Regions from separate parts of the Homo sapiens genome. Here all the other regions are reported to be linked to region 1. The links are microRNA targets in miRTarBase. Many come from high-throughput screens and were not tested one by one. Region 1 holds a microRNA gene; each other region holds the end of a gene's coding sequence.

Region 1 (7,698 bases):
ACATTCCAAACCTAATCCCATGTGCAGCCAGGCTGGCAAGTAAAGCTGAGTTGCCAATTACTTTGCTTTTTTTGGACTCCACTTTCCCTGAGTGGCAATGAAAATAATAATCCTACAGCCTTTCCTGACAAGTTCTGCAGGTAAGAGCTTGTTTTAGGTATAATCCTTCATGGGAGCTAAGGGCAGAGGAAAGAAGAATGGGGTCAATTAAATAACCTCTAGAGCATCTTTCTGATTATGTGACTCAGTCATCTGTGGGCTTTTGCCATTGCTGTCAATTAAGGTTGACACCAAGGCCAAGCAGACTTTATGAGCTAGGACATAGCTGGATCACCCTTAGGACTAAGAAGAGGAGAAGACATCATTCCAGATCCTACCAGAGCCCTCTACTTCTCCCTTTTGTTGTCATGTCATCTGTTTAGAAGAGAAGCCTGAGACAATTTTATGTGGGGGGCGGGGGTCGGGGAAGGGTGTACGTGCATGCGTGCGTGTGTTCCAACTTTCCAAGCAAGGGATCTCTTCTAACCTAGCCTAAGTTGGAATAGTGCTACAGGTCCAGGACCTTAGCCTTAGAGAGCAGAGCTATTCTTCCTGTCTCTTACTTCCCACTATGTAGCACTCAATGTTTGATATTGGTACTGGAGACCATGTGACTTTATCTTCCTTAAATATGGTATTAATTTTCACCCAGAAAAATAAAGCGATTAATGGAAATCGGGCACTTAAGATAATAAAAGGGAGTGTTTTGCCTTAGGGCAAAGCATAAGGATTTAATTTTCCCAGAATTCTCAATCTGATTCTGAGGCCAGCAACAACTAGTTTTGGGGCAGTACAAATACATAAGATGAAATCCCCAACCAGGGACCTGGAGCCAGAAGAACCCACAAGGGCTTCAAATGGCCCAGGTGTTGGAGGCCTTTTTAACAATGTGGCTGTAATCTACACAGTAACCAGACCAAGCAAGCCTGCTTTAGCAGATAACCTCAAAAGTGCAAAGATAATATTGAGATGTGGAGGAATATCAAGGGAGGCTCCACAAGAAGGATGGAGTTTTGTTTTTTTGATCTATTCCTTACTTAGGGCAGGGGAAGAACAGCTGTTTACAAGGGTGGATGGATGTGAGGGACACTATGAAGGCTTCCACCTGAACATCAGCCTCTTTGAGACTAGACATTTCACTGTTAATGTTAACAATCCATTTCTTTGGTTTAAGGTGTGTGAATTCCCAGGGCTGTCCCTGGAAAAAGAAGTATATTCAACCCTTGACAATAAATCATAAGGAAGGTAGAGGAGAACCAATAGAGGGAGGTTTGCCTTTGGAATGTGAAATAGTTCCTTCAAGTGAACCAGAGATTATAGAGCAGGAGGTGACCTTAGAGATTTTTTAATTCACCTTGAAACTTAACTATAATAAACGGTTCCCTCAGACAAACAGAAATGAGAGGAAGAGTTTGAGCTGGGAATAGAGAGAGGCTCTGGACTGTGTGGGAAAGTTGAACCAGGAAAATAATTTCACTGTTAGGAGGACTGGCACATGACCTTGAAGGGAAGATGCAAGATGGTATTGGCAAAGATGAAGGAGCACAGGCAAAACTAAGCCAGTGCATGTAGCATAAGTGTGTCTAATATTAAAACAGAATTTGCAATGAATTCCAAGGGTACAGAAAATTCTTTTGAAAGGCCAGACTTCTACTTGATGGTTTTCTTTGCTTTAAGTCGCTCGGGCTAATTGGAATGGAATGTTTCAGTTAAGCAAACACTCACTAGAATTCAAACCTGGTTATAACCTCCATTCAAATAAAAATAGATAGAAATGGCTGCAAAAGTCTCTCTGTTTCTCTATTTGGAATATAAAGTATAGAATGTACACTATTGAGGTTTGTTATGGACATATTCACGATGTTATACTATTTGGAATATAAAATTGAGAATGTACACTTTTGAGGTTTGTTATGGGCTTATTTGGAATGTTACAGGATGCAATATGACTTCCCAGAAAACATGGCAAAAATTGCAGCAGCAAGCTTCGCTCCTGCTAAGTTTCTTTCCTCTATCCAAAGTCCTGTCATAAGTATAGGAGTGAGACAGGGGAAAATGGGAAGATGAGGAAATGGAGTTTTCAAAAGATTATTTGGAAATTTATTCTTTTTTAACATTTGTTTGGAGGTTTTTGTTTTGTTTTAGATTTTGAAAGGGAAATGCATGCACATGGTAAACAATTCTAACATATTCAAAAGGCTATATACAGTTTGAAAGTCAGTTAACTTTGCTAGAAGAAAACACTGTTAAAAGTTCCTTGTGTTACTTTGTGATACCAGAGATAATCTAATCTACATTTAGAAACACACACACACCATAATTATAATTTTGGATCTTATAAAACCTTTGTGAAGGCTTCTCTGTCTGTCAGGTTTACTTCAGAACAACACCAGATTCCCGTGGCATGGTCTTTACCATGTGACCAAAATCATCTTCAAAGATTCAGCCAGGCCACTGGCCTCTACCTCTATGTTACATACTCAGAAGCCAAGCCATAGTAGGTAGGGGTAAGTAGGAGGGGATCCTGGGAATTGTAACAAAGTATCGTTCTCTTAGGAAAATTAGGATATTAGTACCTACCTCACAGGATTATTTTAAGCACTGAAAGAAATAATATGAATAAAGTGCTTAAAACAGTGCCTGGCATAGAGTAAGTGCTACATAAGTTTCAGCTGTTGTCATCATCACTATTATTGTTGCTATTGTGAAAGAGGACAGCTTAGGGCTTCCTGAAGCTATTCCCTATTTTCTCTGGGTTTTCTTCACAGGTACCTCCAAAGATGGGAGTTGCTGTCACTACTCTTCTTCTAGAATATTTTCCCCACCAAGATCTAAACTGTGGAGCCAGTTGGTAGCCAAAATTGTACCTCAAAAGCTCTCCTAGACACATGGAAAACTTGGCTTCTCTGCCTGATGTTCATCTCAAAGCATCAGTGATAAACTGTTTCATATGTTATTACTCACTACTATTCTTGTAAAGACCATGGAAATACATGGACAGACCGCCAGCTCACCACACTTTCTGCAGAATTACTCAGCCCAGACGTGTTGTTTTCATCTCCTTTGTGTGATTCAGTTCCTCTTCATTCCTACACCTCTCACCACTTCTGAGGAGTTACATGTTTCCAGCTAGCCGCAGACATTGAACTGCCTTATCTTGCTGGCTACATCTGCATGCAGCTGGTACCACTAGGACAGGCTGAACTACACATTCACAGATTAAACTCCCTAAGCAGCCTGAGTCTGCCATCTCATTCCCTTTGAAGCTCTTAGAGAAGGGGAAGCCAAGTTCACAGATATGCAGCACACCTTCTCTCACCTGTCTCTTTATTTGGGAGGGTGGGTGAATGACAACTAAGACAACTAGCATTTCCCTACCAAAGAGTCTCATCACTGACATCTCTTTACTTCCTGGTTTCTCACAAACATAAATTGAACATTCGACTTCTGGTACAAATCTTTGTACCATCACAGAGGGGCTTCCATGGGGATTAACCATAAAGCCTCACTTGCTTGACTCAATTCCAGTGACTTTTTCTACACTTCATTTATCCACATCCATGGCCCATGCAGGGTCTTTTCATCATCCAGAACAGCTCTACTTCTGAAATCTTAAATTCGTATACCCTACTCTTCAGCTACTTTTATTTTCCAGTGAGGGCTTTTACTTCCTTGCCCATACTACTCCTATTCTATGGGCTCCTGGTTTCTGTCAGTTTATCAGTCCATCCTAATTATTTTTTCTGACTTGCCTAGGCTCTATAATCTATTATTGCAACCATTTTCTTTTCTCTAGTTTTAACCACATTTTGACCTGGTACCACCTGAAAATTTATGGTTTCCTTCTTCAGGAGAGTTATTGGCACCACATGATAACTTCTTCAGGAGTTCCTGGCCAACTTTCTCTTCCATCTCTTCCTATATATTCAGACATCTCTTTTCATCAATCACTGTCCTAACTTCGAATCTTCACTCCTTCCCTCTCCAATGGTTCTTTGTCCTCTGCACAACAATATGCTGAAACCTCCCATCATTTAAGAAACAGTCCCTCCACCTTATCTCTTTCTCTGTTTGTTGCCCTGTCTCTCCTTTTCTTTCTAACCAAGCTTTTTAAAAGCAGTTTAAGAACAGTTTAAAAACTTTTAAAGAACCATTTACATTCACCATCTTCACTTACTCTTTTCCTTTTCACCCCTCAACACACTGAAATCTGGTTCTGTTTCTGGGGTAGATCCTCTCCTACCCGTTTGTACCTTTGTCAAAATATTAATCACTCTACTGTAACCACCACTAGGCCTAAGTACCTCAAAATGTAGGATGTTGAATAACTTATCTATGTAGTCCCAGAGCCTAGCACAGTGCTTGATTGATAGGAGGTCCTCAATAAACAAATTATGTCACAAACACTTACTGGACACCTACTAGGAACCAAGCACTGTATTGGTTCTGTGGACTTGAATCCATCTCAAAACCTATATTTAAGCAACTTTTTCTCACAGAACCTTTCTTTCCTTTGTGAATGTCAAGTCAGTATATTTAATTAAGCCATACAATCCCTGTCCCGTGCCGTGACTTTACTCATAATGGTCATTCAACATTTGTTGAATGATTGCTTGATAGAACTCAGCAGACCCAAAAGGACTAATTGTGAAGAGTTGCTGTAGGAAATGGCCAGAGAGAGGCCTGTTCTGAAATCTGGTTCCTTACAGAGAGCTTTTCAGGCTTTCAGAACCATTTCTGAGCAGTTCTCTAGAAATACATTCATTTGCAACTCTATCCCAACATGGCTGATAGGTTTTGGTAAACCCGTTTACAACCTCTCCATTTCCTTTGTCTTCAACTTCTCTCCCCTCTCTCCAGTCTTTCCCCCTACACCTATTAGACAGGTGCAAATATCTCTCCTAGTCACAAATAAGGAAAGACCTAAATTAGAAAACCTCCCTGGACTCCAAGGTTTCACATTACCTAATATCCTTCCTTTCTCCACTAATCTTCTGCAAGAATAGTCTGAACTTTCTAGTCCCATTTCCTTCTTCCCATTCATTCCCACACCAAATAGTCAGAAAGGCTAGGATATGAATTAGAATGGTCAGGGAAGGGTTTCATGGACAAGTAAGGGCACAGGATGCAGAAGAATTTTGTGATTAAAGTGCAGAATATGGAAATGTATTGGAGAGGTATTAGGTTTTTCTATTTTATTTTTCATCTGCTTTATAATATTCTTTTTTTTAAGTAGGTAACACATGTATATGATACATAGTTCAAAAAATGCAAAATGAAAGTAAGGGTTCTTCCCAATCCCACCAAGTTCCCTTTTCTAGAGGCAATCACTGTTAAAAGTTTCTTATGTATCCTCCCAAAGATGCATTTGTAAATATTTACATATATGGAGTGCCTATACAATATGGTAGAGCACAATAAGAAGGGCAGTGTGAACTGACAAGCACAGAAGAGGCTTTGAAGAATTAGGGAATATCATCTTCCCTCCAACATACTCTTCCTCTTAAGTCCCCACCTCCATTAATAGCCTTTCCATCCTCCCAAGATGACCCAGGCTCAAAGCCTCTGAACATTGGCAGGAAATCTGTTACTAACCAGAGTTTAGTTTTCTAAAATGGTTTTCTGTACATCACAATTAAGCCAATTAACATTCCCTCCACACCTGCCACTGCTATTTTCAATTTTGTTTTGAAAATATAAGTCACATACATCTACTCCTCACCACTTTCACTACCCCAGCCTCCATTAGGCCCTCGTGACTTCTTATCTTCAAAATTGAAGTAACTGCCTTCTTCATATGGTTGTTAGGTACATTTGGTAAAATTAAATAAGCATGGTAACAATTAGCAGGCTCAACAAATATTTGTTCCTTTCTCTTCTCCCCAATACCTCCCAGCCACTATACCACCCCACCACCCCATCAACCTTAATCCACTCCCCATATTACATACTTGGTTTATCAAAACAACGTCGAATTCTTGAAATTTTTCTATATCTATCCTATATTGATCCCAAGATCAGAGCTTCAGAATATGAAAACTTACCTGAACTCTGAGGAAAGGCACTAGAAAATTCCAAATACAGCTGTCCCAAAGGAAAACCACTCTTAGTACCTCTCAAAGGCATTGCCTTTATAGTCTAGGGTAGTATCATTGACATGTAGAAACTAAAAAGGTTATGATCTAACCTATATTTTTCCCCTAGAAAAACCTTACCTATTCTTCAGGACTCCGTTTGAATTCCACCTTCTTCTTGAAGTCTTCCAGGATTCTGCCCATGTTAACTCTTTTCACCCAAGTCTTAATGAATCTTACCTTTCTCTGCATTACAAAATGTGGAGGGAAGGGAGGGAGGAGAGGGGAGACAAAGGAAGACATGGGATGGGGAGTGAGAGAGTGACACCCAAATCCTCGTTCTGACAAAACCCATTGTCCCACCTCCTAAAATATGCCTAATTGAGTAAGGTTAAAGTGATGGTTACCAAACAGCAGGTAAGGGTATCCCCTAGACCCCCTAGTTTCTGGTTAACAATTAAGGACATATAAAATAAAATATACTTTAATCTTGAATAAACTTATTTATTTTCAGGTTAATTTACTTTTGTATAAATGATTTTGGCATATTTTAATTTTTATTATCTATATCATAATCTGATTCATTTCAATTAAATCATGAACATTTTCCCATGTCATTAACTTTTCTTTAAAATATTTTTTAATAGTTTTGTAAGTCTCTCATCTTGTTTCCATCCGTAATATATTTGTTCCCCTATTTTGGGGCATTTTTCTTTTTATTCCCATTTTTGTTTTTACAAATAATGTTATTTGAAGGTATGTAAATCTTTACCTGAATCTCTATTTATCTGAATCTTTATGTTTAGACATGTTGATAGATAACATCAAACTACTTCCAAAAATGATGTACCAATCTAATCCACTGGCACTGTACAAGAATGACCACCTCATTGCACTCTCACCAGCATAGACTATTATCTTTTCTATTTTTTTCTAATTTGATAGGTGACAAAAATGACATGCCATTATTAGTTTTTCTTTTCCTTTTCCTTTTTTTTTTTTTTTTTTTTTTTTTTGAGATGGAGTCTCACTCTGTCACCCAGGCTGGAGTGCAATGGCACGATCTCGGCTCACTGCAACCCCCGCCTCCTGGGTCCAAGCTATTCTCCTGCCTCAGCCTTCTGAGGAGCTGGGATTACAGGAGCCCACCACCATGTCCAGTTAATTTTTTTTATTTTTAGTAGAGGCAGGTTTTCACCATGTTGGCCAGGGTGGTCTGGAACCTCTGACCTCAGGAGATCCGCCCGCCTCGGCCTCCCAAAGTGCTGGGATTACAGGCATGAGACGCCACGCCCGGACAAGAGTTTTTCAATAATGTTAATATACATGGTTTGTTTTTCCTGTTCTGTTAATTACTTATACATCTCCTTTGCCCATTTTTATTGAGATCTTCTGTTTTTCTTACTAGTTATATGTATTTTGATATAATCAACATGTTAGATTATAATTATTATATGCAGTTGATTCTTATTATTCACAGTTGCTATGTTTTATAAAGCCACTACAAACACTGAATTAATGAATACTGAACCACTGCTCCTGGAGAAATACATAGTTAGGCTCCTGTGAGCCTCTGGTCACATTT
Region 2 (7,698 bases), not on the chromosome of region 1:
CAGATGGGCCACTGCCACCACCAAAAGGATTAGACTGTCTTGGTTTGTTTTGTGTAGCTATAAAGACATACTTGCGGCTGGGTAATTTCTAAAGAAAAGAGGTTTATTTGGCTTACACTTCTGAGGCTGTGCATCATGGCTCCAGCATCTGCTTCTGGTGAGGGCCTCAGACTGCTTCCACTCATGGCAGAAGGCAAAGGGGAACCAGCGTATACAGAGATCACATGACGAGAGAGGAACCAAGGGAGAGAAACAGGGGAGGTGTCAGGCTCTTTTTAACAACTATCTCTTGTGGGAACTAATAAAGAACTCACTCCTGAGAAAGGGCATTAAACTATTTGTGAGGGATCTACCCCTATGACCCTAACATTTCTCATTAGGCCCCACTTCCAACACTGGGGATCAAATTTCAGCATGAGGTTTAGAGTGGACAAACATCCAAACCCTAGTAGACTATAAGATGATTTCCCATTTATCTTAATAGTCACAGTTTGATTTTTCTGTCTGCAAATACTGTCTTATTGTAAAACTATAACAACAAAAATTATTAGCTTTTATTTTCTTGGGAGAATAATAAAGGAGTTTTCATTTACATAATAGTCCTCTTATAATTTGCTTGATGATGGCTATTGTAGGTATAAAATACTCCTGAGGAAACAATATTATTCAAGTAGCTACAACAGTGATCAAAAGAAGAAAAGCTTGTTGATGAAATGTAGGCTAAAGCCCATCATAATGGGCTCTGATAGGATAATCTTTTTCAATCATAGTAAATTCAAATACTTTTTTTTTAATAATGCAACACAAGTACCAACATAATATATGCTATCATCCTTGCTTTGGTATGTGTTCATGCACATGTTCCAAAGGTTTATTATATGATTTTTTTTCACTTTTATTTAGGCCAGTATTTACCAAACTTTTACTGTGGCACACTTGGATATGGTTAAGGGTACTTAGTAAAAATGTTTCCATGGTCCAATAAATTGGGCAAACAATATTTGGTATCGCTACCAAAGATTCACAACATAGATTAGTATGTTGAGAATTCTGAGCAGCTCACTGTCTCAGTCTGTTCAGACTTGCATAACAAGATGCCATAGACTGCGTGGCTTATAAAAAACAGAACTTTATTTCTCACAGTTCTAGGGGCTAAGAAGTCTAAGATGAAGGCACTAGCAGATTGACTGTCTGGTGACAGCCCTCTTCCTCATAGATCTTCTCTAACCTCACATGTAGAAAAAAATGAGTGATCTCCCTTGGGCCCTTTTTACAAGGGCACTAATCCCATTCATGAGAATTCTGCCTCCTGACCTAATTACCCAAAGGCCCTATCTACTAATACTATAGGAATATGGGGAGGACATAACCATTCAAACCCTAGCACTCACCTAAAAAGAAACATATTTAGCAAGGTTTGAATCCCAACCCAGATTTCACAAATCTATTTAAACATGATTTTTTTTTTCATAGCATACTTCTTACTCCTGCAGAACATCATTCTGAAGAATAAGCTATTGCTACATGGATTGAATCATAGCTGATACTCTACTAAAAAGTCCACGATAAAAATTATGTCCACAAATGTTTTGTCAAATGATTTAAGAGCACTTAATCTTGCTGCCATTCTGTTTTAAACCTGCTTCAATCAGGCTCACCCCTAAAACTTGATAGAAATTGGCATCCAGGTCATTTTTGATATCAGTATTGCTAAAAACAACAATGGTTAGTTCTCAATCATCGTCTTACTGGATTTAGTGGCAGTATTTTACAAAGTTGATCACTTTCTACTTCTTTCTTTTCTTTTTTTTTTTCTTGAGATAGAGTCTCACTTTGTCATCCAGGCTGGAGTGCAGTGGCATGATCTCAACTCATCGCAACCTCCACCTCCTGGATTCAGGTGATTCTCCTGCCTCAGCCTCTCAAGTAGCTGGGATTACAGGCACCTGCCACCACACCTGGCTAATTTTTGTATTTTTAGTAGAGGCAGGGTTTCATCATGTTGGCCAAGCTGGTCTCGAACTCCTGACCTCAAGCAATCCACCTGCCTCGGCCTCCCAAAGTCCTAGGTTTACAGGCGTGAGTCACCATGCCCAGCCGCTTTCTACTTCTTGATATATTTATTTCACTTCCTTCCAAGACACAAAACTCATTACTCACTGGCTGCTGCTTATCAGATGCCTGTGTAGGCTCCTCATCTTCTTTTTGCATTTTTAGAGTACCAGGGGACTCAGTTATTCAATTGCTCTTTATGTCTCTACACATTCCCTCAGTAATTTCATCTACTCTCAAAGTTTTAAGTATCACATGTTTTGACAATCCCAAAATGCATATTTCCAGCTTCACTCTCTCTCCCAAACTTCAGACATATCTCCACCCATTTACTCATCATCTCAAATTTGATATATCTCAGCTGAACTTCTGATTTTTCCTCCTAAATTTCTTTCTGCAGCCTCTCCCATCTTAAAGGCAACTCTGTATTTCCAGTTACTCAGAACATGAAGCTTAGAATCATAGTTTTCTCCTCTGTCTTTCACACCTACATCTAATCCATAAGCAAATCCTGGTAGCTGTACTTGCAGAATACATCTGGAATCCAACCACTTCCTACCACTTCCACTGCTGCCACCCTCGTGCGATGCACAAGCTGCAACAATTTCTCATCCTAGAATACTGAAATAGCCTCCAAACTCTCTCCTTGTTCCACCATTGCCCCTCTGTCTATTCTGAACAAAGCACGTGGAGTGACCCTTTTAAAATGATTTAAAGATCAAGTCATTTATCTGCTCCAAGCTCAGCCACCATATCACATTCCAAAATCAAATCCTTTACAAAGGTTGGCAAGGCCCTAGGTGATCTGTAGGGCTGCTTTCAACCCCTCTTATCTATGAATTCATCTCCTTCTACTCTGGTTTGCTCACTGGCCTCCAGTTATGCGCACTTCTTTGCCATTCCTACAACTTCCCACATATGCTTCCACCTTCAGTACAAACAATTCCCTTCAAGCATCTGCTCAAATTTACCTTCTCAATGAGGCCAACACTGACAATCCTGTCAAAAATTGCAACACATCCTCAACCTGCCTGCCCTCACAATTCTCCTCTCCTGTGCTACATTTTTTTTCCATACTTTATCAGTTTATAATTTATTCATATGGTTATTGCTTGTCTTTTTCCATAAGAATGTAATCACCCCCACCATCCTGCTCACCAGTTACGGTGTATCATAATGAGTAACAGTAAAAAGAACTGCACAATAAATTTAGGTAGCTCCACATTAGGGCAACCTCTGGAGAGAAGTTTGCGAGGGAGTTGAGTAACAAAGTTGAGATATGAGGAAGAATATGAATTTCAAAGGAAAAAGTAGGCCTGCATGGTAGGAAACACATGTACCACACATCTGTTACCTCCCATTGACTTTGGTTGTTAGATGTAAATGTAAACCAAATGTAAGTTCACATTACTTCATCTGTTCTGACACCATCATTAAAGAAATCCTGAAGTAAGCAGGTTAAGACAAGAACTGTCCTTATCTGTTGATGCAATATTCTATTAAAAAAATCTGATACTAGAATCTTAAATTCAATCTCTGAATTACATTGTCAGGGCTAATCATTGGGGCTTCTTTTCCTAGCTATCAGTTTTCCTTAAATGTCTGACATTCTTTGGACATCAGTATGTGTTTATGAAGGATTAGATCAAATTGCACAGATAGCTGAGAAAAGCAGTTTCTTCAGCAGTTATGTGTCTGCATTAGACCTCCTTTTTGAATAGAAGCGATGGTTCTCAGTAAATTGTCAGGCAGTGGCCAATCATAGCTCACTGCAGCCTTCAACTCCTCCCACCTCAGCTTCCAGAGTATCTGGGATTATGGGTGCATGTCATCACACCCGGCTAAATTGTCAGGGTTTTTTAACCAGCAGGTACCCACAGGTGAGTATGTGGTCTGCATGCAGAGAAATTGTTTCCCACCAAGCCAACATAAGGAGGCTTTACTCTGGGAGTGCTGCCATTTCTCACCAGCACCCCCTTGACCTTCAAGTGAAAATTCACTTCACCTTTACTCTGCCTTCACCTCACACCCTAATACCCTCAATGGGTAAGTCTTCCCCCAAATAACCCCATTCTTTCAAGACTTGTTTAGTCCCTTGCCTGAGGAAAAAGTTACTTTTGTTAACAACTGTTTACCTGGAGGGAGTAGCTAAGAGCAGAGCTTTCCAATGCAGTTCTTCAATAAATTAATATGAATGAATTCTGCACCCTCACCCAAATCCAATCCTTAAAGCTTCTCCAGGACATCCTGATTGTGGTTTTTCTGATTTATCTCCCAAGCCACACTCTTCTGCTTTATATATTACTGGAATGTCTCAAAACTTGATTTTTTTTAAAATAGGCTACAGATAATCCTCAGCCCAAAATTCAAGGTATAGCTAATTTTATTATTATCAAACAAAACTAGTAGATATAACTTCCAGGAAATAAGTTACATAAATATAACAGAATAAATTCATTTTCTTAAGTTTCAAATTAAAGATGATTAAGAAATACAGCTTTATGTAAAGTTTCTGCTTTTTCTCAACCACGCCTAAAGAGGAAAGAACTGGCAGCAGGAACACTTGCTCCTAGGAAACAAATACAACAAAATTATAATTAAAAAGATCTTCAAGCTATCAAAATTTGTGAGAGAAGGATGGTAAGAATGCAGTAGAAATTACCAAATGACAAACAAAATCCTATCAGTTTTCAGGTTGGTCAAAAGTAACTTCATGAATATAGCCTGTGATCAGCATATGTCCCATAGCTTATATGCCCTCTATACCTCCAGAGTTGCATAATAAACTTTTAACAATAAAACAACAACGAATATCAGGTTGTAAATATTTATATTTCTCTCACATACAATGTTGTATGAGACACTTGTTTTAATATGTATCCATAGGATTAATACTCATATGGAGTATAATGTGGAAAAGTGCAGAACTAAAGAAATAAGTCTATCCGAAAACAAAAGCACACATTTCTCAGGATTTAAAAATATTGCACATAGTAAGGTTGCACAGAAATTACTGGCTGGTTTTACAAACAGAATGAGGTATCAGTCAATCTCTAGATAAAGATGAGAGAGAGGATAAACTACACACACACAAACACATAAATCCATACTAAGACCTAAGAGTGCCAACAACTAAGAAAGAAATATGAAAAAGCTATGTAAGTAGCTATGATTTCAACACTACAAAATCATTTTTAGGCTGGAACCAAACACATAACAATCTCTTGGCAATATTTCGTTAAGTTTTCAACTTTTTTCCAGCCTAAATGACTATGGGCAATAAAACCATTTCCTTTACCCCAGTTCTACTGTAGAAAGGCACAGCGCTGTGGTAAATATCAAACCATTCCTTTCTCAACCTTTCAGTAGCAATTAACCAAGATACTGTTCTCCTTTACTGAATGACTCAATTATACAGTTTCATGTACACTCTGCAACGCAAGTCACAGATGTCATAGAACATGCAACTTTGAATTAGTAAAGGTTTCACTGCAAAAATCATTAGGTTCACACAATTTAAATCTACAATTAACTTTTAAAGTTTAATCAGGTAAACTCAATATTTTCTTGGTAATAATACTGGTGATATTAGTGAGCCCAAGGGCAGGTAGAGAAAAAGCACTAGGCAAAATTACGTGTTTTTTAAAGAAACTTTCCTAATCAGGGAAATAATTAGCATTTTGTCTACTCGTTGAATGTTGAATTTGTCAAAAAAAAAAAACCCTTAAATATATTTAATAGCTATATCAAATTGTTTAAAGTGAAATCATGCACTTGTCAAAATAGTTCACAGAAAATTGTTTAGCATCAAAGATAATGAGGAAGAGTCAACCAGTTGGATTTAGTGAGAATAGAATAAGAACTACTGTCCTGAACAGTCAGTGTATGTAGTAACCATATTTCCTCTTCGTTGAGTGACAGTCCTGCAGTGCTTGCTAGATCCATGAAATCTATTTTCAGTCTGTACTGTATGCTGATTGGTAGAGTCAAAACCACTAAAAGAAAACATTTTCTCCATATCTTCAAACATGTCATCAAATAATCCACCTCCAAAAGAAAATTCTTGGAAATGATGCCTTTGTCTACTGGAACCACCATCCTGGCGTGTCTGGAAATGATTTTCAAAACGCTTCTTGGATCCAGTGTTTTGGTTTTGACCAAAAAAGCCAAAGTCTTTAAATAAGTCATCAAAATTGAAGTTAAATGACTGCTCAAAAGAACTTCCACTACCTCTTTGTCCTTTACCACTAGTAAAAGCACTGTGTCCAAGTGTATCATACTCTTTTCGTCTATTAGCATCTGAGAGTGTTTCATATGCTGAAAGTGACAAAAATATTTTTAGTAACTGAAGGTAAAATATTCAAAATTACATATATTCAAATCTCTTCAAGCAAGTGAACTGAATACTATTATTTTAGGGAAGAATTTCGCATCAGAAATAAAAGCAAAACACTACAAATATAAGCATCAAGTTAATCAAAATTATAAAATAAAGCAGAAACTGTCTTATTAACTGCTGAGTTATCAGCAGTTGGCACAATGCCATCTGCAATACTCAATAAAGTTATTAAATGTTACCATTACTACAAATAAACATGTGGGCAACAATCAGAGTTCTTTAATCTTCATATTATTCGTGTGAAATCATTAATTGTATTAAAAAATTAAACCATCAACTATAACCAATTAATAGGAATTAAGATTTTGCACCTCCTTACTAAAGTAAACTGTTTAATTCTAACTCCCTACTCAGTTACCTCCATCCAACAATAATTACTGAATGCTCAGCAGGTGCAATTTGTTTTAGAGCTAGTCTGAAGTCAAAATTTGTTCCAATTTTTTCTTTGAAGACAAATATGGCTTTGAAAAGCAGATCAAGTGAATAAAGCACTTTAGAGTCTAGTTTAATTTTTAAGTCTTTAATGTTTAAAATGTAAAATATTCTGTTTCATAAGTTAGTTGATAAGAATTTTGGGTACCTAAAATTCTTTTTTGTCATAGAAGCAACAGTGATCTTATAAATAATATAGAATAGATTTTCAATATTTTTAGATACGTATACCAATAAAATTATCTATTATTCTTTCATATATTTATTCAGGAATCAAAGCATCTGTGATAAGAAAATAATCTCAGAGAATCACCCAATATTTATACATAAATCCCACTCCACCTCCCATCTCCACAAAACCTTCAAATACAAACACTTCTTAGCTATCATTCTCCTTACTAGTTAATACCCATGACACTTCAGAGATTGTCATTTATTTACCTTCTGCAATCTCTCTGAATTTTGCTTCAGCATCCGGGCTCTTATTTTTGTCAGGGTGGTACTTCATGGCCAACTTGTGAAAGGCCTTCTTGATTTGGCGCTCTGATGCCGATTTTGGCACACCTAAGATATCATAGTAGCTTTTTGAGGCCAGAATTAATTCTGTTATCATTAAAATGCAGATTGCAAAGATGAAAATTGACTGGGGAGTAGCCATTTCTAATATCCTAAAACAGAAAAGAAAAAAAAATGTTATGGATGGAGCTAATCTTAAAACGTTTTTCTTTTAAAAGAAATCCAACACAAGGTAAACCTAATGCAGTATCAAAATAGTAAGCATACAGTATCTATTACCTGTCCACATGTAATTTCAC
Region 3 (7,212 bases), not on the chromosome of region 1:
GTTCAGTTGAGCGGTATGACCCCCGAAGCAACAAGTGGGATTATGTGGCAGCACTTACTACTCCCAGAGGTGGAGTGGGAATCGCAACAGTGATGGGCAAAATCTTTGCAGTTGGTGGTCATAATGGCAATGCATACTTAAATACAGTAGAAGCGTTTGATCCAGTGCTGAATAGGTAATTTACATGTTGTCTCCGTGCTTTATATTATCTTCTGGTATAATAGTAGATTACTTCAGAGTGTTAAAATGTTGCTAGTCGTAGTTAATACTAAGCTTTGGGATATCTTATCTCCCACTGGAAGCTTGCTGTCCTACAAAACCAGTCTCACATAGGGAATTTTTGTCTTTGGTTAGTATTTTGAGTAAAGTAAATTATGCTTTGTAACATTTTTTCTTCTCCGTCTTTTCAGGTGGGAGCTTGTTGGATCTGTGTCTCACTGCAGAGCTGGAGCAGGAGTAGCTGTGTGTTCCTGTTTAACTAGCCAAATTCGAGATGTAGGTCATGGATCCAATAATGTGGTTGACTGTATGTGATTTGAGTTCTGGCCACCAACAATTTAGTCATATCTGATAGGTACAAAAGAAAACCAAGATTTTGATATGACCACCTTTCAACACTTTTTACTGCAACTAGAGTCTTATTTAAATGTTAACTGTTGTATTGTGACTAAGTACAACTTTTGGAATGATACCTGAAGAATTATTAGTAATAGAGTTAAATTTGATACTTCCTGCTTTTGCAAATAATGGAGTAGGGAAGAAGATAGTCGAACTTAAAATCATACCTACCCTGAAAAATGCTTAAAGTAGTGCCAAAAATCTTGAAATCTCTCTCTCTCTCTCTATTTGGATGAATCAAAATGTAATTTGTTGAGTTTTGCCTTTTCTTTTGCCTAAAGATGTTAACGTCAGGCAGTGGGTTTTTCCTAGAGGAGAGATTAGTACCTATTCATTAACACAAGGATACATAAGAGACTTGCCCCTTTTGAAGATCATTTCTACTTGGTGCTGATGAATTTATGCCTAGCTTTTTTTTTCTAGGTGGTGATTTTTCAATTTCTTTTATATTTACGGAAGTAGAAAAAATGTTCTGTCTTTTTGAATGCCACTTAGCTGCATTTTCAGAAGCTTATAGGCTATAAGAAGCCTTTAATTTCAGTTTGAATTGCTAGGACACCAAAAGACCTAGCTGGGCTAACTCCATCCAAATGATTTTACAGTTTTATTTTTTCATCTTTTGCAAAAAGTATTTGTTACATAATCAAAAGGTGAACCAGAGGAAATATTGAACAAGGTTTTAGATCTGATGTTATTCTGGTGCCCAATTGAGAGACCTTGAGAAAGAATGATGCAGATTACATGACTCTAATGTGGGCAGTCTGAAAATATCTTTAACTGTCTTCTTTGATCATTTGATTTTGGATCCAAGATTTATCATCTCTCTATTTTGCTATTTGCCACCATCCTGGTTTTTCTGACTGTACAGAATCAATCTGCATTTATTTATTATCAGAAATGAATGCATTTTTACAAAAACCTTTTTGTAGACTGTAGTTTATTGATTAGTTCAAGCCCATCACGAACTAATTAAACATATTGTTGGTAAAAACAGAGATTGAAATTACTGTTTTTATCATATTTAAATCCCTCTGGTGTATTTATTGAAATTTAATTAAAAATATTTCTACATATTGATTTGAAGCCAGGATATTGATGGACCTACAGATTTAACAGCTCTTCAAAGTTTTAACTAGCATTATAAAATGGCCTATTCATTATATGTATATTTTTTTATAAATATTTATCAAGAACATGAAAATATTTTATTTTGTATTTGCAGTGCAGTTTGGCACCTCTCTTCCAGGCCTTCCTAAGTTTTTGTTAGTTGTGTCTTCGAATTTATTGTAGTTCACCGCTGGTCAGTAATCTGGTTCATAAGGAAGCTGGGGCAGTGAAAAACACTTCGTTGATCCATCCAGCCCTAAAGTTCATTGACTAATAGCTCATGCATCTTATTAAATGGGATTCTGGACTTCTACAATAGTGTGGAAAGCCACATCACAAAAAAAGCCACATCACAAAAAAAAGCCAGTGCCTATTGAGTATATCAAACCAAAAAAGAAAAAAAAAAGTTTTAAGAGGGGTCAGGCTGGCAGATAAAAGTCTCTTATGAAGCAGATATAAATCCAGTAAGCTATTTTTTTCTACCTATGGGCAAGTTCATAAGTCATTGCTGGATCTGAACCAGTGTTCTTTTGTGTAAGTACAACCATATTTCAGTCAGTCCAGAGGCAGTTAACCCTGTAGCACTTACTAGACTGGTGACAACTGGCTGGATGTGGAGAATAAGTGTCAAAACCTGGCTTCAATGTCTATTTCTTATGTCTAATGGAGTTCTTATATTACAGTGTTTGTTTAGCTATGGTTACTAATATGTTTGTTATATTTATTTTCGGGGAGAGGATCTTGTTATTGTTTCCTGAGATTATTTAAAATGTTTTTTCTTTGATGTATTTCTGTCTTTCTTATATGTAAGGAGTTATAAGGGTTATTATATTTTCATTTCTGGTTTTTACTATACAATGGTTATCTAACATACTAAGTTGGTACCCTACCTACCCGTAAAATATGAAATACTCAGAAGTAAAGTGTGTGGGCAATCAGAAGCATAGCCTTGAAGGACCTGACAGCAGTATGAAAAGATAAATAGGCCAGGCATGGTGGCTCACGCCTGTGATCCCAGCACTTTGGGAGGCCGAGGTGGGTGGACCACCTGAGATCAGGTGTTCAAGACCAGCCTGACCAACATGGTGAAACCCTGTCTCTACTAAAAGTACAAAAATTAGCCAGGCGTGGTGGCGCATACCTGTAATTCCAGCTACTCAGGAGGCTGAGGCAGGAGAATTGCTTGAACCCAGGAGGTGGAGGTTGCAATGAGCCGAGGTTGAGCCATCGCACTCCAGCGGTGAAACAAGAGTGAAACTCCATCTCAAAAAAAAAAAAAAAAAAAAGATAAAAAAGCAGAATCAATATGTGCACAGTTCTCTTTATCAGGCAAAAACACGTTTATTGAGACATGAAATGAGAATCAGGCTGAAGGAATCATGCAGCTGAAAGATGATTATATTCATAGAAATGAAGAGATGAAATATTCAAAGAAGATGGCTACTTTATTGTGAGACTTACCACTTTAACCTCATATGTTAACAGCACCTACCAAAAAATGATATGAGATAGAGCTAAAATACTGAAATTGCAAATGGACAAAATAAATCATGAAAATTTGTTTATTATTTCTTCAATAAATATTTCTAGGTGCTTTGTGATTCTTTCATTTAGTCATTAAAGCCATTGCTTTACTATATTGCGTTGCCACTTTAAAAACAAGTTACTTGACATTGTTTTTGACAGATTTCACTATATACTTATGTAATTAATTGATTATTTCTAAAATGTTTGAATAAACTTTGTACTCCCTCTAAGGAGTATTTTATTCATTCTTTTAATTCCCAAATGAACTTTGAACTTACAGTGCTGTTGAATGCCTTGGTAAGGACTTCTTGAAATTGCATAAACTATTCTTGTAAATGGTAAACTTGAGAATTTTCTTTGTTTCTTTTTTCTCTATGTCTTAAAGAATGCCTTTAGAATCTAATTCATGTTGTATCAGTTAAGAATGTTTCTGTGGTTTCTCGTATCAGATGTGTAAAGAAATTATTACTGGGATGCCATTGGCTATGTCTCTTTCCCCTTCATGTAAAATTCCAAGTGTCAGTAAAACTTCTCTATAATATTTTCTTAAAACCATTTATAAATTTGTGTTATAATACTCCAGAAAATCAATGTAATAAGTGGTCATATATATCACCAACTATGGATATCAAAAAGTTGGGGTCACATCAGTGCTATTTATTTAATTAAAATACATTGCATATTTCTATTAGCACAAACTTCTCTCTAAAAGGTCTGTGTAACTGCTTCTCATCATTATTTGATTGCTGTTATGGGATCCTGTCAAAACTGTGTAATTGTTTATTCTCCATTCCTCAAATACAAAATTGAGTAGGTTGGCTATATTTTTCTCCTTATATGAAGGATCTTTATGTTTAACTGAAAATTTTAGAAAGCTTTTCGTTTTCCCTTATGAAAATTAAAGGTTGAAGGTAACTGATGTAAGTAGTTTCACTGATCTTAAGCAGTTGTCTCTTCAGTAATTGCAGACTTGTACTATATAGAAATGAGACTATGCATTAGGATGACTGTTGTCCTTCCAAGTAGAAACCTTGCAAAGTTGTAGCTTTTTAAAAAAATTAAGGTTGCCATTGCTAAAACTTCTTTTGAAACTCATCTTTGAAAATAGCCTGAAGAGATCATTTGTAAGTCACTCAAAAGAATTAGTCTCATCATAGTCATATGTTAATCTTGACCAAAATCTTAACTTGATTATTCATCAAACATGATTGAAAATATTTCATGTCTATTTTCATAGGTAAAATCTACTTTCAAAGAAGTGAGGTTTTTCATCTACTGGTAAAAATGTTTTCAACACTAAACAGTTTGAATGAAATATTTCTAAAATCCTGAGCAATGGCAAGGTCAGTGAAAGAAGTGTATAGTCTCTTTGAGAGGCAACCTTATTTGAATGCAGAAATTCTGGTGCGTTTTTTGTTGTTTTTAACAAGTCACTCTTCCATTATCTTAGTGGTTTGAGGCTAAGTTCAGTAGAATATAAGGGGTTTCTTAGATATGAGTAATAGTTATGGGGAGTATTAGCTATCATTTAAAAAAATGTATCGCCTGTACCAGTCACTTAATAACATTTCTCATCTTTACAGTAATTTGATACTTCACCGTTAAAAAAAAGGTTCAAAAGTTAAAAAGAAAATAGATTCAAAGACATTAAATAACTAGTTGAAGATCACAACTAAGTTAGTGATTGACTAATATTCTTTGTGACTAAAAAACTCAACTGCTCCACCTATATCAGTTATACATACTTCTGCATTCACTAGGTAATACAGTATGCATACATTAAGAAAAGATCATTTCCTTTTTTTGTAGTCTCTTCTTAGCAGTATGAAAGTATTTCTGGTCACTACATTTCTCTTTTGTTGTTGTTGTTGTTGTTGTTGTTGTTGTTTTTTGAGATAGAGTCTCACTCTGTTGCCCAGGCTGGAGGGCAGCAGCATGATCTCGGCTCACTGCAACCTCCTCCTCCTGGGTTCAAGTGATTCTTCTGCCTCAGTCTCTTTTTATTTTATTTTATTTTATTTTATTTTTTGAGACAGAGTCTCACTCTATCGCCCAGGCTGGAGTGCAATGGTGTGATCTTGGCTCACTGCAACCTCCGCCTCCTGGGTTCAAGTGATTTTCTTGCCTCAGCCTCCTGAGTTGCTGGGATTACAGGTGTATGCCACCACACCTGGCTAATTTTTGTATTTTTAGTAGAGATGGGGTTTCACCATGTTGGCCAGGCTAGTCTTGAACTCCTAACCTCAAATGATCCGCCCATCTCGGCCTCCTAAAGTGCTGGGATTACAGGCGTGAGCCACCATGCCTGGCCTGGTCACTACATTTCTATAGGTAGTATTTGATGCATACATAAAAATATATGCAAGATGAAGACATAATAATAAAATACCTATGAAGCCACCCACTAAGAACTGGAGCCTTTCTGGTAGTATTAACCCTACCTTTGTGTTCCTTCTCAATTCCAATCCCCAGCCTACTCTTTAGGGGTAACCACCTCCTTGAATCTATCATTTCTTTTTTTTTTTTTTTTCCCTTTTGGTTTTTTTTTGAGATGGAGTCTTGCTCTGTCTCCCAGGCTGGAGTGCAGTGGCGTGATCTCGGCTCACTGCAAGCTCCACCCCCCGGGTTCACGCCATTCTCCTGCCTCAGCCTCCCAAGTAGCTGGGACTACAGGCACCTGCCACCATGCCCGGCTAATTTTTTGTATTTTTGTTAGCCAGGATGGTCTCGATCTCCTTACCTTGTGATCTGCCCACCTCGGCCTACCAAAGTTCTGGGATTACAGGTGTGAGCCACCGCACCTGGCCTCCCTTTTGCTTTCATACATATGTCCCATGGCTATATATCGTTTATTTTTGTGAACTTTATAAAAAATAGTATCATCCTGGCGGGGCGCAGTGGCTCACGCCTGTAATCCCAGTACTTTGGGAGGCCGAGGTGGGCCGATCACGAGGTCAGGAGTTTGAGACCAGCCTGGCCAACATAGTGAAACCCCGTCTCTACTAAAAATACAAAAATTAGCCAGGCATGGTGGCATGCATCTGTAGTCCCAGCTACTCGGGAGGCTGAGGCAGGAGAATCGCTTGAACCCGGGAGGTGGAGGTTGCAGTGAGCTGAGATCGCGCCATTGCACTCCAGCCTGGGCAACAGAGCAAGACTCCATCTCAAAAACAAACAACAAAAAAGTATTCTTTATGTAGTCTTATGTAACTTGTTGTTTTTATTCAACAGGTTTATTTTTACAATTTATTTTCTTGGGTCTAGTTTTTCTTTTTTTTTTTTTTTTTGCTTTTACAAACAATGCTGAAACGAACATTCATATCCAATTTTTTGGTGCTCATGTCCAAGAGTTTCTTTAGCATATAAACCTAGATTCAAAGTTGGTGGTTTGTAAGGCATGTGCCTGATCAGCTTTTTAACAGTTTTACAAGATAATGCCAAATTGTTTTCCAAACTGGTTGCACCGCTTTACAGTATGGTTTCTTATTTACTTGCTATCATAAGACCCAATTCTTTCCAATCTGTTAGGTGTAAAATGGTATTTTATTGTGGCTTTAAATTGCATTTTCCTTATGAATGTGACAGCACTCACTTCACTATAAAAGAAAACATGCATTTTTCTGATTAATAAGTTAAAAACATTTTCATGTTTATTAGTCATTCCTGTTCTGTGAAATATGTCTTGATGTCTTTTATTTTTCTGTTTTTGCTCTTATTTAAGAGTTTTTTGTATTTAGGATATTGATATTTTTGTTGTTTTTTTGTTGTTCTTGCACATATCTTCATCCAGTTTGTAGCTTTTCACTTTGGGTTTTTTTGTAAACAAAATTTAATATTTTCAAACGTGAGTTATTTTTATGTTTTAAGAAATTTGTCCTATCCCAGGGTCATAGTTGCTCAATGTTGCTTCTGAAAATCAAAAAAGTGTCTCAGTTAAGTTTTTAGCCTACCTGGAATTGA
Region 4 (7,698 bases), not on the chromosome of region 1:
CCGAGGACCCTGCGCCCGGGGGGCCCCGCGGCCACGTGACCCCCATCTGGCTCTCGGCCTGGACTGAGGGGGCTGAGCTCATCGCGTTGCTATTCGAGGGGCAGAGACTGCCTGGCCTTCCTCAAATCCTGAGCTCCCGGCTCTCCTCCCTCCCCCACCTACTTGACATCTCAGGCTTTTTGTGGAAGGGGCAGGGCGATTGAGAGGTCGGTGACCTTTGTCCCAATGGCGCTGGCTCTTTTCCTTTTTGGCTACCCTAATGGAATGAGGATATAATCAGTCATATCTTAACATTCATTGAGCCCCGGCTCAGGCTGGGAGGCACTGCCTTTCTCCTAGTGAATTTTAAATCAGTATTTGTGGGATTTAAGCTCCAGCGGATAAACCTAGAGCCACTGGCCATGAAGGGTGTGGCAGTGGGGTGAAAAACGGGACTCCCGCCTCCACTCCCTGGCTTTCCTCATTCCAGCCACTATAGAGGGGAAAATACGTAGACCACAGAGCAACGGCCACACCCTCTTTCCTCTCCTCCAACCCCAGAATTCCACTTCAGTCTCAGAGCTTTCAGCTAGGTGGGGTTTATCCCCAAACATGCCACAACCCCTCTAGTTATATGGGAGCGGTAACTGTGAACCACCATCGCTGGCTTGATCCTCCCTTTTCCGTGGATTGGTGCTCCTGAGTATGTTTACCGGTTTCAGTACATAACACAGCCAGATAGAGGGCCGCGGACTTCAGCGGCGAGAAGCTACAACAAAAATAGGGTGAACAAAAACGAAGGTGCCCAGGAGCCTGAATTGCATTTCTTTCTTACCTTTGGTCATAGAAAGGAGCACTTAGGTGTTTGGCTGGAACGCAAAGTGAGACCAGAGCTTACATTCTTAGCAGCCTGGGTTTGTCTCGAGAGGCCATGCTTCTCTCCTCCCTGACATTTTGCTCTCAGAAGCACCAGTTAGCATCAGAGGAATGTTGTTTCCTTCTCTGAAACAGCCATCAAGTACCAGCGATTTCTTGGCTCCGGCAAGTTAAGTGCTCTGACCCCTCCCTTATCTAACTCACCCCGCACACCATCCACATGGCAGGGGACGCAGCCAGAAATGGAGCGGACTGCATCTTTTCCTTGCCCACTCTTTTTATCACCATGACAGAGCCACTGGACACCAGGAAATAAATACTGAACCACCACACTAAAACGTTTACTCCACTTTGGGCAGAAGGAGCCTATTTTGCATATTAAGTGCCTCCTATAAAGCAGTCAAGTGAGGGAAAGAGGAGTTCTCGCTCCTCCGTGAATGCTGCACGGGAGCCTCCAGTCGGGAACAGCTGAACAGGTAGCTCTGAAAGAGGACCTTGGTCATAAACGCATAGATAAGATTATCCCGAGGTTCTCGCCCACATGCTTCCTTACCACAGGTGGGAGGGCTGCTGTTAGGCTGTCTTCCTTGCTGAGCATTGACAAGCAATGAAATAGTTGAGGCGTAGCAGCAAGAAAGGAGGAAGAAAAAGGGCCTGGTTTTTTGGTCTTTAAGAACAGACCACTAGTGGTGTATTTTGGGCTGGATATTTGCTGAGCCGACCGTTGACGTGCTGAGCTGACGGTTGACGTGCTGAGCTGAGGGTTGACGTCTCTGGTCATTACACAGATTTAAATAACCAGCAAAAGTGGGGTGGAAAGGTTTTTCCAATTGTTTTCAAGGAAATGTATTTTGAGGATATATTGAATCTGACATAACTTTCAACTCACTTTCAAACCAATCTACTGAGCTGAAGAAAGAGATCAGAAATGAAATGAAATTCTGATATACACTTAATCGACTTAAAAAAAATTGACAGGAAAAATAAAATTTCAGATGTTTTTTATTCAAAGGTTCTCAAAAGAAATAAAACAGAAAAGCTAACAATCTGATCAAATGTACAGTTCAAAAATGTCTTTTGGCGTTTAACAACAAGTCCTAGGAAAGAAAACTACAGAGTTATCTTGAACCGGACAAATAAGTTACCACTGGCAAGTCTGTGGCACTAGTAAAACAAAAATAAAAAATTAACTCTCTTGATCATATAGATATCTCTATGAAAATCTTTTTTTTTCAATCTGTACAAAAGGTCTTTCTTCATAAATTAATTTTTTTATAATTTAATGGCTGTCTACTATGTGATGTTTAACTGATTTTTTTTTTTTTATGTACAGAGGTTATGTTTCCCAAATCTTACCCAGACGAGTATGGCACTTAGTTCAGACATTTCTAGCAGCAGATTTCCCCTCCCCTCTAACCGAGCTATCAAATTTCTGTCTTAACTAATGCAAAAATATCAAGTAGTGAGAGACCCAGGTTTATAACTGTACTAGGTACACAGAGGGTGCTGCGTTCAGTCTGGACTTTCACAAAGCAGTAATATTCCAGGGAGCATAGAACCAATAATACCACAACTTTAAAAAAATGAAACAAAAACAAAAACAAAAACACATTTCTCTTATGACTATGTAATTTTCACTAGAATCTACACTTCTCAGAGCAGCAAGGACTTTTGAAACTATGAAATGTCACTGACATCTATCATCAAATACAAGCATAAAATTTAAGAACTAAAAAATACTTGAAAGAAATAACTGCTTAGCCCTAGCTCCTGAGCTAGGAGGATTTGGTCTGTGGAAACAGGGAGGGCCAGCAACCTGTCCCAGCACAAAAGAAAATAGACTCTGAGGTAGATAACTGATCATACACAGCTGACCAGACAAGTACACAGTTTTGGAAGACAACTTAATTTACCATTGCTTTTAAAACATATGCAATTGCCTTAATAAAAGAGCTTTAATAACAGTGAATTATCTTATATGTACTAAAGTAGAAATAACTGTGTATTTATGAATCAGGAATTTCATAGTTTCAAAATTGGTTTTCTTTACACTTGAACACTTGTAGTGATGATGTAAAGTGTGGCACTGCTTGGATCCAAATCTTCCTTCATGCTTTTTTGTTTGTGTGTGTCCATACATCAATTAAAATTATAAAACCTAAATGCAAAGGTACAAAAAAGGCACATTCTCCTAACCGCAAACTGGTCCGGCAAAAATAAAGAGCACAGAAGATGTGATGCTGAGACAAGTTGGAGCTACTGGTTACTGGCTCTTCGGTCTTTGGTGAAGTTACCTTTAAAAGTGCCAAGTCATTTTTATTTTTCAAATTTACCTAATAGAGAGAGAGAGAGAGAGCTAGTAGCCAATCGTTTTGCTTCTATTCGTTATCTCAGCTTATGTTTGAAGATAAATCCTTACTTTTAGCTTTTGCCACTTTGTTGCAATAGCAACATTTTTCGGTTTGCCAGATTTCAGGCATAATTCTCATTCTAAAGCACTATCATTAGTATAAAGGAAGGACAAAACATTCAGTGACTCCCCTCCCCCACCCCCATCCCCAACCCCAACACTACCTACACTAAATCTAGTACATCAAGTTAGCTTTTTTTTTTTCCTGAAAAAAGGCAAAAAAGACTTTACATTGCATCATACAGCAGATATCCTAAATCAGTCAAACTATCAGAGGAAACTGTTGGCGTACAGCCTTACAAACAATTTACCCTAATAAAAGTTCCCCAGTCAGAAAATGTGTTTCACACAAAACATTTTTCCCTTCTTGCATTTCACTACCTTACACATTATGTGAAAAATCATTAAAAACACCTACTACATATTTAAAAAAGCCAAAATTTCAGCAACTTTTATTGACTACCTTTTAAAAGCCCTATGCTGCTGTTTTACAAGGCATAATAGACCAGCTCATTTGGTCAAAGCATTCTACATCATTAGTTTGAACTAACTTTTACTGAAACAGCTACAGCATCAAAAGAGTTAAGGCAAATTGGAATTCATAGAAAAGGATAAGACACTTCACACTACGTTGAAAGAAAGACAGAAAGCTAAGAAAAGAGACACTGACGGCAACACTGAATTACAGCAACACTCGCACTGCAAGCACAGAACACCATGGGTGAAGTCGGACTATTTAAACTTCAGAAAGCCCATTTCATACAGCTGGAAAAAAAAAACACAAATTAAACACAAAATGAACAAAACCACAAAAATCCGGTCATGCACTTGGATAAGTCTTCATGGTCTTTGTGCATACCCAGAAAATTGAAGTTTTCTTTTCTTTTTTTTTTTCTTTTTCTTTTTTTGCATCATAACATTTGATAAAAATCTTTTGTTTTTGTTTTTTGTTTTTTTTTTTTTACTAAAATAAACCTGTTCGGGGGAACAGCTACTAGATGAATTTAAGGGTTTTATGCACCTTATAGAACTTATAGCAAAAATAGTTTTAGTTGATTTCATTATAAATAACGTTTTCAAGAACCTGTGCAAAACTGTCAATAATTTCCTAAAGCACAATTGATCAGAAAAATCCATGATTGTTCAGCCTTCACACCCTTCTTCATGTAAGAACACCTTTCTGTACATCTGGAAGAGAAAAATAAAAGACAAATGCTTTTGTAGATTTGGTGTGAAACACTACAGAGCTTTGTAATCTGTTTCTTGTTTTAAAGAGATATGTGTTTGAAAAAGGTTATGCTCATCACTGATGGTAGACTGATAAATGCAGACTCTGGAACTGATGGTTACTTTCAATGCCTGTCACATCCAGGACTTGCAAAATACTTTCTTTTCTAATTTAGAGCCAAATTCATTTGGGTCTCTAAAGAGTGACTTTATGAAATCAAAAATACATGTTATCACCAGGGCAATCCAGAAACCAAGGTATTCTATATCACCAGGGCAATGCAGAAACCAGGGTATTCTAAGTTCTACACAGCTATTTTATTACAGTCTGCATGGTAAAGTGAAAAGTTTTGAAATTTGTGGTTCAAGTGAGAGTTGGGAATATAATCTTTCAATCTAAGGATATTGACATTTATCTAAATTCATAATCAAGATGTTGCTAAACTTGTAATGCTAGATTGAGCAACATCTTATGCTATAGGTCCTCCAGTTTCTGAGTATTAAAGTAATATGATATAGGATACTTGTATTATAGAACAATTTTGGTTCTTGGTGTTCTCTGATGTTACAGATTTTTATTTTTTTCTTTTTAGTGGGGAGAGTATACATTTGGCTTCAGTATAAAGCATTCTCTTTAGACAAAATGATTAATCTTAAATTCATAAAATCACTGATTTTAATATTTCAACAAGACTAGATGCCTTGGCCACGATTAAAGCAGTATGATAAAATCCGAGTTATCCCAATCACCATTCTGATTTTAAAAAAAGCCCTATAGATTGTGCTTGATTTGAGCCCCCCAGTTATGAAGACCTTTCCCTCATACCTCACAGTTACTTATTAGGTTGAAAGGTATATGGAGAATGGTCATTAGACGTCTCGACAGCCACCTGCTGTTGACCACTTGCCTCCTACAACAAACAAAGCAGAATGGATGAGACATGTTAGTGAAAAAACCTCAGCTCTGCTACTTAGGCCTGACTGAATCCAACAGTGCCTTAAAAACAGTTACTCTTTAAAGTAAATTTCTTCACGTCATGTAGAGCTTTCAAGGTTAATCATTTCCCTAAGCAGCTGGCATGTCTAACAGACCCAAAGCACCTCCCATCCAAATGTTTATGACTTTCCTATTCTTATCAAGCTACAGCATATCAAACAAATCTCTTACCCTCTTATCCCCTGGGGACAGATGTGATTTGGAATTCAGTATTTTCAGATTTTATAATCTGAAATGTGGTATGCATATGCTGTATATCATTTAATGCCTCCAGTAGGGTCTAGGGCTGCACCTCATAAGCAAACATATTAATAGTTCTACACTGGAAGCCATGAAGCAGCACAGTTAAGTGGGATCAAGATTTTGTCTCATCTCAATTCAGGTTGAGTTTTGCCATAGGTCAGGTTTTATGCTAAAGTAGTTACAAAGATAATTTTTATTTTCAGATTTCTTTTTGGGTTTCAGATTGCAGGTAAGGAATTGTAGGCTCTGGTAACTGTGGTTGTCAGTAATTGCACAAACAGAAGTAAAATACTACTACCACCACCACCACCACCACCACCACCACCAACACCTACTACTACTACTACTGCTACTACTATCACCACCACCACCACCACCTCCACCAACAGGCCAGAGTCCTATGATCCTTTCCTGGAATTGGAACCTTTGGGATCTGCCTAGTGGGCAAGATCAACTGGATTGATACATTTCCTTGAAATTTTAAGGATACTTTGCAGGAAAATGCCACGTTTTCTCTCTAACCATAATTCAAATGCTAGACTTCTTTCTTTCATATCAGTATCTTCCATAACAAGAACAGTTATCTAGCCATACTAACAGCCTCTGTAAAAACAGCTATAGCTTCTTCTTCATCCCTGTAGCAGTTTCAAAACAGCTTTCTCTTTTCCACTAAGTATCTTAACTACAACTGATTTCTTTTCGTCATTATTAATTATCATTGATACGATCTTTAGTACTGGGACTGCAAACTCCAGATTTATCTTATTATGTCTGTAGTATCATTTTATGAGAGACAAGACAGAACGTCCGAGGGGTATGAAAGGCACTATAGGCTTAGAAAATATTTCTGGGAGTCTTAAGAGGTGTGGCCTGGATGTTGTTACCCTAATTTGTCATGATCATAGCTCACTGTAGTTGCAAACTCCAGGGCTCAAGGGTTCTTCCTGCCTCATACTCCTGAGTAGCTGGGACTACAGGTCCATGTCACCATGTCTGGCCAATTTTCAAACAATTTTATTTTTTGTAGAGATGGGATCTCACTATGTTGCCCAGGCTGGTCTCTAACTCCTGACCATAAGCAATCCTCCCTCCTCAGCCTTCCAAAGTGTTGGACTTACAGGCATGACCCACCACATCTGGCTAAACGCAATTCTTTATGCAAATATTTGACGTCTGGTAGATTTTTCTGAGTTCTATTTAATTTACCCATTTCTGAAACTACTTATAGCCAGAATGGTCACTGGATGGTCTCTACCAACCTCAACAGGAACCGCTGTCGTCTGCATATGTGCATACTGTGGCAAGTAGGCTCCTTGCATAGCTGACGTTGCAGGCATGTACTAGAAAGAAGAATGAGGTCAGAATGGGCAATGGTAAACCATGCAAAATTTGGAGTACGTGGGGGGATTGTGAGATGGATATAATGTATTTGGAAATCTCAAAGAAGAAATTTAAATGGGCTACACCTCAAAGCTTAAATAGTGCATATAAATATGTCATATGGAAGGTAAACTGTTTTCTACTTTTTGAATCTGCTAAACTAAAAATTCCACATTTCTTTGGATTTGCTAACAAAGTGAAGATAAAAAAAGTTTATTATGGGTGAAGATAAAAAAGTTTGTCACTCTCAATAATTCAGTATCACTAATGTGTGATTTTAGAAGATCTCTCCTCAAAGGACCTCATTATTTTCTAGCAGCCCCCTAAACTAGTACCTAGTATTGTTTCTACAGGTAGAGCCCACAGGGGTAAGACTTATTAGACCTCTAACAGGTCACTGCAGATTAGGCAGCAGAGCCTGGCTTTTCTGACACTGACAGTCATCCTTTCCCAAAGGCAGGAGAAATTTCTAGTCAGTCTCATTGGATATGTGTGGCCCTGGCTTAGCCTTCACAAGAAACAGCTGTAGGTTTTGAGTGTATAAGGGGAAAACGCACCACCCTTTGTTCTTTTAAGCCACTATAGA

Evidence for each region. The annotated mature microRNA hsa-miR-325 reads CCUAGUAGGUGUCCAGUAAGUGU and lies in region 1 at 4,443-4,465, opposite strand. An mRNA with a match to its seed (bases 2 to 7 or 8) in the 3' UTR can be bound and repressed. Matches are read on the target gene's strand: a 7mer-m8 pairs with bases 2 to 8, a 7mer-A1 pairs with bases 2 to 7 and ends in A, and an 8mer does both.
Region 2: the mRNA of DNAJB9 is a reported target of hsa-miR-325. Seed matches in the 3' UTR shown: 7mer-m8 at 4,455-4,461.
Region 3: miRTarBase lists KLHL8 as a target of hsa-miR-325. Seed matches in the 3' UTR shown: 7mer-A1 at 2,312-2,318.
Region 4: the mRNA of RBMS1 is a reported target of hsa-miR-325. Seed matches in the 3' UTR shown: 7mer-A1 at 3,440-3,446 and 7mer-m8 at 3,212-3,218.

The regions. Positions count from the first base shown.
Region 1 is chrX:77,001,022-77,008,719 of GRCh38, forward strand. It overlaps MIR325 (microRNA 325), which reads right to left and starts at 4,480; the gene lies at 4,383-4,480. It overlaps MIR325HG (MIR325 host gene), which reads right to left. Exons shown (of 3, transcript NR_110406.2): 2 at 6,255-6,359.
Region 2 is chr7:108,571,570-108,579,267 of GRCh38, reverse strand. DNAJB9 (DnaJ heat shock protein family (Hsp40) member B9) reads right to left here. Exons shown (of 3, transcript NM_012328.3): 2 at 7,325-7,551; 3 at 4,418-6,369. The coding sequence starts at 7,541. The coding sequence ends at 5,915. Among named protein-coding and RNA genes, the nearest start is that of DNAJB9, 5.5 kb to the right of the region's middle. RefSeq lists an enhancer at 1-272.
Region 3 is chr4:87,156,841-87,164,052 of GRCh38, reverse strand. It overlaps KLHL8 (kelch like family member 8), which reads left to right. Exons shown (of 10, transcript NM_020803.5): 9 at 1-175; 10 at 411-3,950. The coding sequence ends at 534. Among named protein-coding and RNA genes, the nearest start is that of KLHL8, 60 kb to the left of the region's middle.
Region 4 is chr2:160,270,312-160,278,009 of GRCh38, forward strand. It overlaps RBMS1 (RNA binding motif single stranded interacting protein 1), which reads right to left. Exons shown (of 14, transcript NM_016836.4): 12 at 6,992-7,072; 13 at 5,319-5,403; 14 at 1,840-4,453. The coding sequence ends at 5,326. LINC02478 (long intergenic non-protein coding RNA 2478) reads right to left here and starts at 1,584. Exons shown (of 2, transcript NR_103775.1): 1 at 1,409-1,584. RefSeq lists an enhancer at 1-401.